Linked DNA regions of Homo sapiens: region 1 is linked to region 2. The links come from fine-mapping of genetic effects on gene expression. A gene starts in region 2. The other region holds a variant in brackets. All regions are shown on one strand. Distances are between the middles of the regions.

Region 1 (5,510 bases), 39 kb before region 2:
TGGCCACTGGGGTGTGTTCACTACTAGAGGCTGTCAGGAGGGCTTTGAGGTTTCTAGGGAGTCCAATGATCTGATTGGATCTGTGTTTTCAGAAGGTGGCTCTGCCAGTCGGCTTGGGGGATGGGTGGTCAGGGGGAAGCTGTTACAGTCATCAAGGAGAGAGATGACAAGGGCCTGGATCAGGCAGCCCTGGGAGGGTCAGAGGGGACAGCCCTGCAGCAGAGAGGTCAGTGAAGAAGCTAGTGTCAGTCTGAGGCATGAGGTGGCAAGGGCAGAAACAGAAGGGCAGGGGAAGAGGGGCAGGCTGGGGGGCATTCTGGCGTGGCGTGGTCAGGGGCTGGACGACCAAGATGTGAGGTGGGGGTCAGATGAGAGCCCCTCACTCGAGTTCCTCCTTACACAGTCCTTACAGCAACCTGGGCCTGGGTTTTTCCTCTGGAAACCTGGCCTCATCCAGGTCACCCACGCTCACATGCCCTTGCCCCACGTGTGTCAGGAAGGAAGGCTGCTTGGTTTTGGAGCTGTCTCCCCAGGCCCACAGTGCCAGGCCCTAGCCCCAAGAGCCATCCCAGCCAGCATCAGCACCCTCAGCAAGGCCCCATGGGTCCTCAGCTTTCCCAGGGTCCTGTGGCCCAGCCTGCCTCACCCCGGCAGCAGCGGCAGCTGCCCTTCCCTGTGTGTGGCCCCGGGCGCACCCTTGTCTTCCTGTTTCCCACGGCCCATCTGGAGAAGGCCGCCAGCTTTGGCTTGCTGGCACCTCGCAGGGGTCCCTTCCGTGGGCACATCAGGCTATGCCCTGTGCCCACTCGTGCCCCAGTGTAGGCGGCTGGTGGTAGGCCAGTGGCCGGGGCAGAGCGCCACTCTCCTGGGCACGTGGCCTGCCAGCCAGCCAGAACACAGCCAGACCAGGCGATGCTGCCTCCACCTAGCCCTGCCTCCATCATTTTCGGCTTTTACTTCTCCCACCTCCAACCACCAAAAGATGTTTCTCAGGGACGTCAACTGGAAGACAAGGTAAACAGCTAAAGTATTCTGGCAAATTCCCGCAGCAGTGAGGCTGTCGGAGTGAAGGTGAGCCGCAGGCCGGCCGGATCATACCTTCCTGCCCAGGCTTGTGGATGTGTGTGAGGAAAGGCGGGCAGAAGGTACCCTCTGGTACACTGCCACGTGGCCCCCCATGGGAGGGTTGTAGAGCAAGCGAAAAAAGGTTGCAAGCCCCAAGTTCCAAAATGTTGAAAAGGAAGTTGTACTGAGAGGTCACTTCTCCTATGTGACAGCAGAGACGTGGGAAAGAGGCGAGATTGTAAATCTCTGGAAAGAGATCCAAGGTTTCCCATCCGGGGAAGGGCCCTGCAGATGTTCGTTTGATATTTTCTCAGCTTCTAAATATTTAGAAATGAAGGTGGAATGTTTTGTTGAGTGGGGAGATCAGGCAGGTCATTGGCTAGTGAGCAGTCTCTCCCCACTCAGCAGAGACACCCCCAATATATCTTCAGGCAGTAAATCCCCAGTAGAGGCACTTGCCTGTGTATCCTAGCAGGAACATCCTCTTTGACTTGCGTTTGGCAGTTAGGCCAGGCAGTATATTTTTGTCACAGGGAAGAAGCCCATTGCCCTTCCAGATGCAGGGAACAGAGGGTGGGCCGGGCCCAGCTTGGCAGTTCCAGGAGTGCACGCTCGCTGGGGAGGCCTGGCTGCAGCTGCACACCCGCTCCTCGTGTCCTGTGGGGTTGCCTGGGTTCAGGGGTGGAGATGCTTGAGCAGCGCAGCTTCAAGGGGCGTCTGGGTTTTTGCCAGATGACCTGGGGTGGAGTGACCAGTGCCTGGCTGAGAAGGAAAGCTGGCCTGAGACAGGCTCCCCACAACCATCCCGTGCTGTGAAGGGCGGAAACAGGAGACGAAGGGACCGGAGATCCCTGGCAGGAGGCGGCTGAGGCAGGGATGGACCCTGCTCAGGTTTTCTGAGCCCTGGATTGTGGTTTGTCCTTCAGTTTTCTGGTAAAGGATGTATGTGAAATTGAGCCAGCAGAGAGATCTCATAAAAGGAAGCAGGTTTCAGAATCACCCAGACCTTGATTCAGATCCTAGCTCAGGAACTTTCCAGCTGTGTGACCTAGACAGACCTCCACCTCTTTGAAACTCAGTGTTGATAATGCCCATTTTGAAAGATAATAGTTCCAGCACTTTGAGAGGCTGAGGCAAGAAGATTGTTTGGCCAGGGGTTCAAGACCAACCTGGGCAACAGTTGCACTGCCCCCCACCCCTTCACCCCTCCCAACAAAACAAAAAGTTATCTGGGTAGGGTGGCATCTGTGGTCCTAGCTTCTTGGGAGTCTGAGATGGGAGGATCACTTGAGCCCAGGAGTTTGAGGTTATAGTGAGCTATGATTGCACCATTGCATTCCAGCCTGGGCAGCAGAGCAAGACCCTGTCTCTAAAAAACATAATAAACAAATTTTATTAAAAAAAAAAAATGGAAAGATCGGGTGCAGTGGCTCATGCCTGTAATCCCAGCACTTTGGGAGGCCAAGGCAGGTGGATCACGAGGTCAGGAGTTCGAGATCAGCCTGACCAACACGGTGAAACCCCATCTGTACTAAAAATACAAAAATCAGCTGGGTGTGGTGGCATGCACCTGTAATCTCAGCTACTCAGGAGGCTGAGGCAGGAGAATCACTTGAACCCGGGAGGCAGAGGTTGCAGTGAGCCAAGATCGCGCCATTGCACTCCAGCCTGGGCGACAGAGCAAGACTCCATCTCAAAAAAAAAAAAAGGAAAGATCATTGTAGAGTAGAAACAAAAAACTGTTTTACACACAGTTTTATGCTCAATAAATAATAACTTTTGCCAGGCGCGATGGCTCATGCCTGTAATCCCAACACTGGGAGGCCAAGGCAGGCAGATCACTTGAGCTCGAGAGTTTGAGACCAGCCTGGGCAACAAAGTAAGACCCCATCTCTCTACAAAAAATACAAAAATTAGCCAGGTGAGGCAGCAGTGTGCCTGTAGTCCCAGCTATTCAGGAGGCTGAGGTGGGAGGATGGCCTGAACCTGGGAGGCCGAGGTTGCAGTGAGCCGTGGTGACAACACTGTGCTCCAGCCTGGGCAACACAGCCAGACCCTGTCTCAAAAATAAAAATAAAAACAAT[T/AACTTTT]ACTGCTACTACCATATATCTTGCAAGGAGAGGCTTTTTGAATATGTACAATTCTAGATTCAAAATTTTCCTAAACTGGGCAACCGTAACTTTCCCTGGGAAGCCGTCTGACCACCATCTTCTGGCCTGGCTGCACGCCGGGTCCTGACCTCCAACCCACAGCACAGTGTGGTGACCAGGAGGATGCCAGAGGCCAGAAGAGTGCTGGGGATGGAGCTGTGCTTTGACAATCGGTGAGAGCTGCCATTCTGGCAAGTCCCGCTCTAGGCCTTTTGTGTACATTTGTTTATTTAGTGCGAGGTGAAGGCAAAGACATGGAGGCCTAGACAAGCCCAGGCCCTTTCCTCTCGGGCTGCAGCACAGGAGCTGCGGGGCCTCAGCGCCGGTGAGTGGGGCCCATGCCTTAGGGCCACGCCCTGCGGGTCGCGCTAGAAGATGCCACGTGGCAGTGGGAGGTGTAATACATCCCCTCTGGGGGAAAGGCTGCCAGCTTCCAAACACTTGCCTGTGTTAGGGCCATGGGGAGGAGGAGAGGCGCCTGCTGGGGACACACGGGCCAGGCTCCGGCTTCAGACGCCATTGGAACCACCTCGTGGAACATCTGCAGCCACAACACATGAAAATGTTTTCCTTCCGGCAGCCACTTTTATAAGGATGTAATAATATATGCAGTGCACAAATGGTTCTGTTTTTGGTGGGTTGGTATTGCCACCGAGCCGACCCTGACCAGGTGTGGAGGGGAGTGAGCAGGGGCGGGCAAGGGGGCTGTGGAAATACGGCCGGGTGCACCGAGCCCTGTGCCCCTCACTCCCCAAGCACCTTTCTCCTTCCCTCCCCAGCCGCTGCGTGGCCATTTACGTGGGCTCAGCTTCCCTGCCATGGGCTGAGGGGGCCTGTGTTCTAGGGGATCAGTCTGCTCCTGGGGACAGTGTCGCACACTGCAAGACCCAGCCCTCTCCTCCACCCGACCTCTCCTACCTTTGTTGGCCAAGGGGTTTCGCCTGTTTGTTTTAAGATGGCTCTTGATTCTGAAACACAAAGATGGTAACCAAGAGGCCAAATTGCTGATGTGACTGGACTTGCCCAGGTGACCCAGGACCTTTGCCGATGGCCGCGGCCTCTCTTTGGGCTGTTGGTGCCCATTTAAAATGGGGCCCACAGTGAGCTCAAAACCCTCATCCCTTCCCTAGGGTGGCCGGGAATCTGCCGTCCACATGGAGCCGGGGAGGAGGAGAGACTCTGATTTGCTGGAAGGACCTCATTCATTTCCATCCAACCCCCAGGCTTCCCTGCCTGCCGAGCTGACTCCACCCAGCCCTGAGCCTAGGCACAGTAACCACCTTCACGTCTGGGAGAACACACAGTCCCCGGGGGCCAGCATGCAAAAGTTCTTTTTGAAGCTGGGTGGATGGAGCCCCCTCCCTCCTGAGGGTGCTCCCCAGCTCCTGTTGAGCAGACAGCCCACCCCGTCGTCTTGGCACCAGGGTTTTGCTAGTGGCAGATAAAGATGATGTTCCAGCAGACGCTCCAGTGCTGCCGAGGTTGGTGTGTTTATTAGACCTGAAATGAGAACTGTGACTCTCAAGCTCATGGGCACTCTCACTACTCCTGTTTTATGGAGACCCCCTGGGGTCTGAGGGTCGAGATTCCTCAGGATGACTTGCCAGAGCATGCCAAGACAGATGGGAGCAGAGAAGCCGGTCTTTCTAGCATTTCTCTCCCTCTTTTCCACTAGTCCTCAGTAAAACAGCCTTGCCAGAACCAGATGTCTTTTTTCTGCAGATATTTACTGTTATGACTTGGGAGGCAGCAGGTTCTGGACTGTTGCCCTCACCTAGACCGCCCCCCCCCCTTGTCAGATGCCACCCGTTTTCTCAGACCCGTCGGTCTCCCAGACCACATTGCTTTGTGAGCAGATGCCTGTCAGGGACAGCTCTATCAGAACAGACCGAGTCCAGCCCAGTGAGCCGTGATGTTCTCTCACTGCTCGGTCCCCCCTCTGCCATCTACAGCGACATAGGTTGGGTCTGTTCCCCTGGCAGACAGCAGGCCTTCAGAGCCCTGCCAGAATCTCTTGTGTCTCCCCTAGCACACACACATCCCTCCCCACCCACCACCGCCAGGCCTGGATAGCCCTAGTTCTCTCCCATTTCTTGGTGTCAGGGTGTTCAGACCTTTTAAGCAGATGAATGCTAACTCATTCAAGGCTTTTAAAACCCAGTGCCTTAGCAGGGTACAGTGGCACACACCTGTAGTTACAGCTGTGTGGGAGGATTGCAGGAGTTCCTGTCTAGCCTGGGCAACATAGCAAGACCTCCTTGTCTTTTAAAAGAAAATTAAAAAAAAAAAAGTGCCCTAAAC
Region 2 (5,000 bases):
GTGTGTGTTGGGGGGTTGTCTCGAGGAAGGTACCTTGGTTTATGGCCCCTGCGGCCTCTCTCTCACTTCCCCCTTTCCCTAGGTTAAGGAGGAAATGAAATGGATGCACCCCAGTATGCGTGCGTGTTGGGGAGTTGTCTTGAGGAAGGTACCTTGGTTTATGGATCCAGGATACTGGGTGGGTGTCCCCCTGACCTTGGACAGGACCCATGTGCAATGTGGAGCTCGGGACACTCTGAGACACACCTGATCCCTGAACAGAAAGGCCTGGCTCTGAGGGCCATCCTGCGTAGTTCCTGTCACCTAGAAGCCAGGCATGGGCCCACATCCTGTTCAAACAGCTCTGAGCAAATGGATGTCCAAGGTTGCAATGGAGCTTGACCTCACCTGCAGGGATGGGAAGGACCCCAGAAGCGGTACCCTGGAATCACCCTTGGAGGGTGCATGTTCAAAATTTGGAGTCAGTGCACCTGGGCTGGGGCTTAGAGATTCTGGGTTTAAGAAGCCCTCCAGCGATTCTGCTCCATCTAGTGCACTTTGAGAAAGGTTGGGCTGGAGATGACATCTCCTGCCACACCCAAACTCCTCTCCCTGATCCCAAGCTGAGTCAGGGTGCTTCGGGCACATGATCACAGCCAATCATGTGTCCACCTTTGTCTACAGGATGAAGTCCAAATTACCTGAGGCTAGGCCTCAAGTTACTCCAAGAACTGCCCTCCCAACCTTATCTCCTGCCTCCTGACCCACGTCTTCAGTCATTTCAGGTCTCCAGGCTTCTGCACGTGCCATCTCTTCCCCTAGAAGTGTCCTGCTCCCCTTCAAGGGCCTGGTCATGAGATAAGAAGACTCACTTCTAAATTGCCCTTTCAAAGATGCCCCATGAGAGCTGGCTGGACAGGACCTTCCACCTCCTCCTCTCCCCTTGTCCACACACCTGAAGAACGCTACCACCGTCCTCTGCGACCACTGTCTTTGAAACGTACTCTCCCCACCCTGGGTTGTGCATTTCTTATTCTCCAGGTGTAAACACACCTAGAGGTTCAGCAAATGTTGAGAGACAGTGAGAGAAAGAGAGAGGTAGAGAGAAGGACAGAGTGAAGAAGAGAGGAAACGGGTGAGAAAGGAGAAAGGGTGGAAGAGAGAGAAGAGGAAGGAAAGGAGAAAGGAAGGGGAGAAAGCTGTGAGCTCGAACAGCCCAGGGTTGAGGAGAAAAGCACTCTGGAACAGACCTGCCCGATGCCTACCAGTCTGGAACTCAAGTGATTGAGCTTCGTAGTTCTCATCTGAAAAGTAGGGGAATAATGCAATACCCACCACCTAGGCTGACTGCAGAGTTAAATGAGACAATCCAGGCCAAGCGATTACAAGGGTGCCTGGCACTGGCACTCAACACCAACAGCCCAAAATGACTATTATTTGTTCTCATTGTAGCCCCTCCAGCGTCCGGGCACACAGGCGCCTTCAGTAAGCGTTGATTAGACATGACCTGTGACCCAGGCCCGGGACCCCTCACACTTCCAGACTCAGACTCTCCATTTACACGTTTGGAAACCTACCCTAAGCACGGCGTGGGAGGAGGCAGTGTAGGCCCTCGGTCCCTGCAGACCTGGGGAGATTGTGGAGGGAGGAGCGTCCCAGCTCGGGGCTACCACCCACTCCAGGCCTCGGCGTCCTCGGCCACAGCTCCCTCCTGGTGACTCAGCCCGGCGCGGGCCGCCTGTTTGGAGGGATAATGATAGGACAGCTGCTGGGGCCAGCGCCGCGAGGGCCCCTCGCCCGGCCGGCCCGGGAAAAACGAAGCCATCAGATGCCAAGGGGCCGGTCGGCCGGGGCAGGGCAACTCCTGGCCAGGCCAGCTCGAGAGGCCGCGCTGGTCGCCTTTGAGGTGGGGGGCCACTGGCTGCGGATTCCCGAGGGCCACCCAGTCCCGGCCCGGAGCCTCGTCCCACGATATCGCGCCACAAGGAGGGCGCAGGAGCCGGGACAGTCCAGCGGCCGGAGGAGAGGGCTGGAAGGATGTGGCAGGGAAGCCCAGGAGCCCCGACCCCCAGCCGTGAAGTTTGCCACCTGCCCCCGGTCCGGCTCACCACGTCCAGATCCGCCGCCAGGGCCCAGCTTCTGGGTCAAGGCCCGCCGGGTCAGCTGACCGCGCGCCACCGCCCCCGCGGGAACCGCAGGCCCCGCCCCCACGCCGCGCGCTGGGCTGACCGGGCCTGGAGGCGCCGCTGGGGCCGCGCCTGTTGTCCCCGCCCCCAACTGCCTCCGCGCTCCTCCCCGGCATGGGCGGGGCCCCCGGCTCCCAACGCGCAGGCGCCGCTGCTATGCTGAGTGCCGCGTCTCGCGTAGTCTCCCGCGCCGCCGTCCACTGCGCGCTTCGCTCTCCGCCGCCCGAGGCCCGCGCGCTCGCCATGTCCCGGCCACCGCCACCGCGGGTCGCCTCGGTGCTGGGCACCATGGAGATGGGGCGCCGCATGGACGCGCCCGCCAGCGCCGCGGCCGTGCGCGCCTTTCTGGAGCGCGGCCACACCGAACTGGACACGGCCTTCATGTACAGCGACGGCCAGTCCGAGACCATCCTGGGCGGCCTGGGGCTCGGGCTGGGCGGTGGCGACTGCAGAGGTAACAGTAGCTGCAGATCCTCCCCATGCATCGTGTAGAGCTGAGCCTGTCCCCAGCCGTGCACCACCCCGCTCGGGCCCGGCCGCGGGCAGCACCGACGGATTCGTCCCTCGCTCCCCACCCCAGGTCCACCCCGCAGCTCTGGGAACCCCGGGACAACTAGACAGTGCTTTGCCCTGACTCCTTTCCCCCACTCTCCTTCCCTTGGGAGTTGCAGCGCGAGAGTCTCCCCCCAGCCTGGTCTGACCCATCGCTTCCCACCTCCATTGATGCCCCCGCCTCCAAACCTGCCAGGTGCCCACAACCGGTCCCCACCCAGGCTCTCCCCCTTTTCTCTACCCCTTCGTTACCATCATCACGCATGCACACCCTGGGCACCCTTTTCTCATCCTGGCCTTTTCTTAACCACTAGAATTTGACCTGTGCAGCTGGCAGTACCTCTGCCTCTCTCAGGGAGAACTGTGGCGATGCCGTAAGGCTGGCTGGGAGAGTAGGAGTGTTAGGGAGTGCGGACGGGTCAGGGTGTAGGGACTTTCTATCCACTCTATGCCAGGCTTTGACTTGGGGCCATAGGAGGGAAAGTGATTCCAGCCCTCCACAGGGAGTTCAGAGTCTAATGAGGAAGATTGAAGTAATGATTGCTGGAGAGCCCAGAAGAGAGAGTACTTTAGGGAGCTGCAGGCCGGGGAGAGGCACTAGGGAAGGCTCAGCAAATGCTGGATGGAGCTCAGCCTTAAAGGCTCAATGGTAGGTTGGAGGAGAACAAGAGAAAGGAACATTAGAGTCTGTGCAAAGACTTGGTTTGGAAATGCAATGTGCGTGATGTGTGAAAGGAAGGCCACTGGGCAGGTGGGGCTTGAGTGGAGGATGGAGGGGACTGTCCCTCGTGAGCCTGGTGCCCTTGATAGCCCTTGGGAGGGTGCCTGGCACTCAGTGAGGGCCCAGGGAACGTGGGCTGTTACCCTTACCATGCTTCACCCACTGGACTATCCTGAGGCTGTTGCTCCCCACCCCTGAGGAGAGGTTCTCTCTGGGTCCTCCTGAGTCATAGCGCTTGGGGGGTCGGGGGGAAAAGAGGGCAAATGTGAATCTCAGGCCCACGCTGTTTCTAGTTCACCTGGCTGCATGTTGTTGTTTTTGTTATTATTATTATTTGAGACGGAATCTTGCTCTGTCACCCAGGGTGGAGTGCAATGGCACGATCTCAGCTCACTGCAACCTCTGCCTCAGCCTCCCAAGTAACTGGGATTACAGGTGCACACGGCCACGCCCAGCTAATTTTTGTATTTTTAGTAGAGATGGGGTTTCACCATATTGGCCAGGCTGGTCTTCAACTCCTGACCTCAAGTGATCTGCCCACCTCAGCCTCCCAAAGTGCTGGGATTATAGGTGTAAGCCACCACGCCCGGCCACGTTACATACTATTAATAATGAAGATTTTGTTCCTGAGTTGGTTTTTCTTCTCTAACCCTTCCCCGCTTCCGTCTTTGGGGCCAGGAGCTCACTGAACCAAAGTCCTCAGGCCAGGCCTGAGGCACAGTTCATGCCAAGAATGCCTGGGGCGTTGTGGGGAAATGGAGAAAATCTGGATGAGAAACTGTGGAACTTGTTCTGTCCCATATCCCAACTGATCTCGTGACACCCTTCTGAGCTACTGAGCTGACTTTGCTAAGTATGAAAAGTGCAGAATCCATCCCCCAACCAATCCAGACAGCTGGGGTTCTTTTTTTTTGTTTTGTTTTTTGTTTTTTGACACAGAGTCTCACTCTGTCGCCCAGGCTGGAGTGCAGTAGCACAATCTGGACTCACTGCAACCTCTGCCTCCCAGGTTCAAGTGATTCTCCTGCCTCAGCCTCCTAAGTAGCTGGGGTTACAGGCACGTGCCACCACGCCTGGCTAATTTTTGTATTTTTAGTAGAGACAGAGTTTCACCATGTTGGCCAAGGCTGGTCTCGAACTCCTGACCTCAGGTGATCCACCCACTTCAGCCTCCGAAAGTGCTGGGATTACAGGCGTGAGCTACCTTTCCTGGCCCAGCTGGGGTTCTTTTTTAATTTTTATTTTTGTAGAGGGAGGGTCTTGCTACATTGTCCAGGATTATCTCAAACTCTTGGGCTCAAGTAATTCTCCCTACTCAGCCTCCCAAAGTACTCCCAAACTAGGTTTACAGACTTGAGCCACTACATCTGGACCAACAGCTGGGGTTCTTTATAGGGGAAAGAATAGTGCAGAATTAACTCATTTCCAAGCTGCTCGGATGCAGAACACTGTTGTCATAGCGATGTGTCCCTACAGTGTTTGGATATATGCTCATGCTTCTGTGAGTCAGGAAGGGGAGGGGAGAATTATAATTACATTCTGCTCAGTTTGCCTTCTAAGCT

Alleles and levels. Alleles are on the strand shown, and positions count from the first base shown. SD is a standard deviation of normalised expression in the study named.
For the expression in monocytes of the gene that starts at base 2,120 in region 2, allele AACTTTT in region 1 goes with a higher level than allele T (large effect, 0.81 SD a copy in Schmiedel 2018).

The links. PIP is the estimated chance that this variant, and not a neighbour inherited with it, causes the effect.
Region 1: its variant is the best candidate, but not a certain one, in a credible set for the expression of SLC66A1 in monocytes (Schmiedel 2018, PIP 0.56).

Annotation. Positions count from the first base shown.
Region 1 is chr1:19,348,251-19,353,760 of GRCh38, reverse strand. The region is part of intron 6 of CAPZB (capping actin protein of muscle Z-line subunit beta); the gene reads left to right. Among named protein-coding and RNA genes, the nearest start is that of SLC66A1, 39 kb to the right of the region's middle. RefSeq lists an enhancer at 1-518. The variant T/AACTTTT (reference allele first, on the strand shown) is at 3,150.
Region 2 is chr1:19,309,446-19,314,445 of GRCh38, reverse strand. It overlaps SLC66A1 (solute carrier family 66 member 1), which reads right to left and starts at 2,120. Exons shown (of 8, transcript NM_001040125.2): 1 at 1,557-2,120. AKR7A2 (aldo-keto reductase family 7 member A2) reads left to right here and starts at 2,302. Exons shown (of 7, transcript NM_003689.4): 1 at 2,302-2,619. The coding sequence starts at 2,322. RefSeq lists silencers at 1,811-1,900, 1,981-2,620 and an enhancer at 2,212-2,711.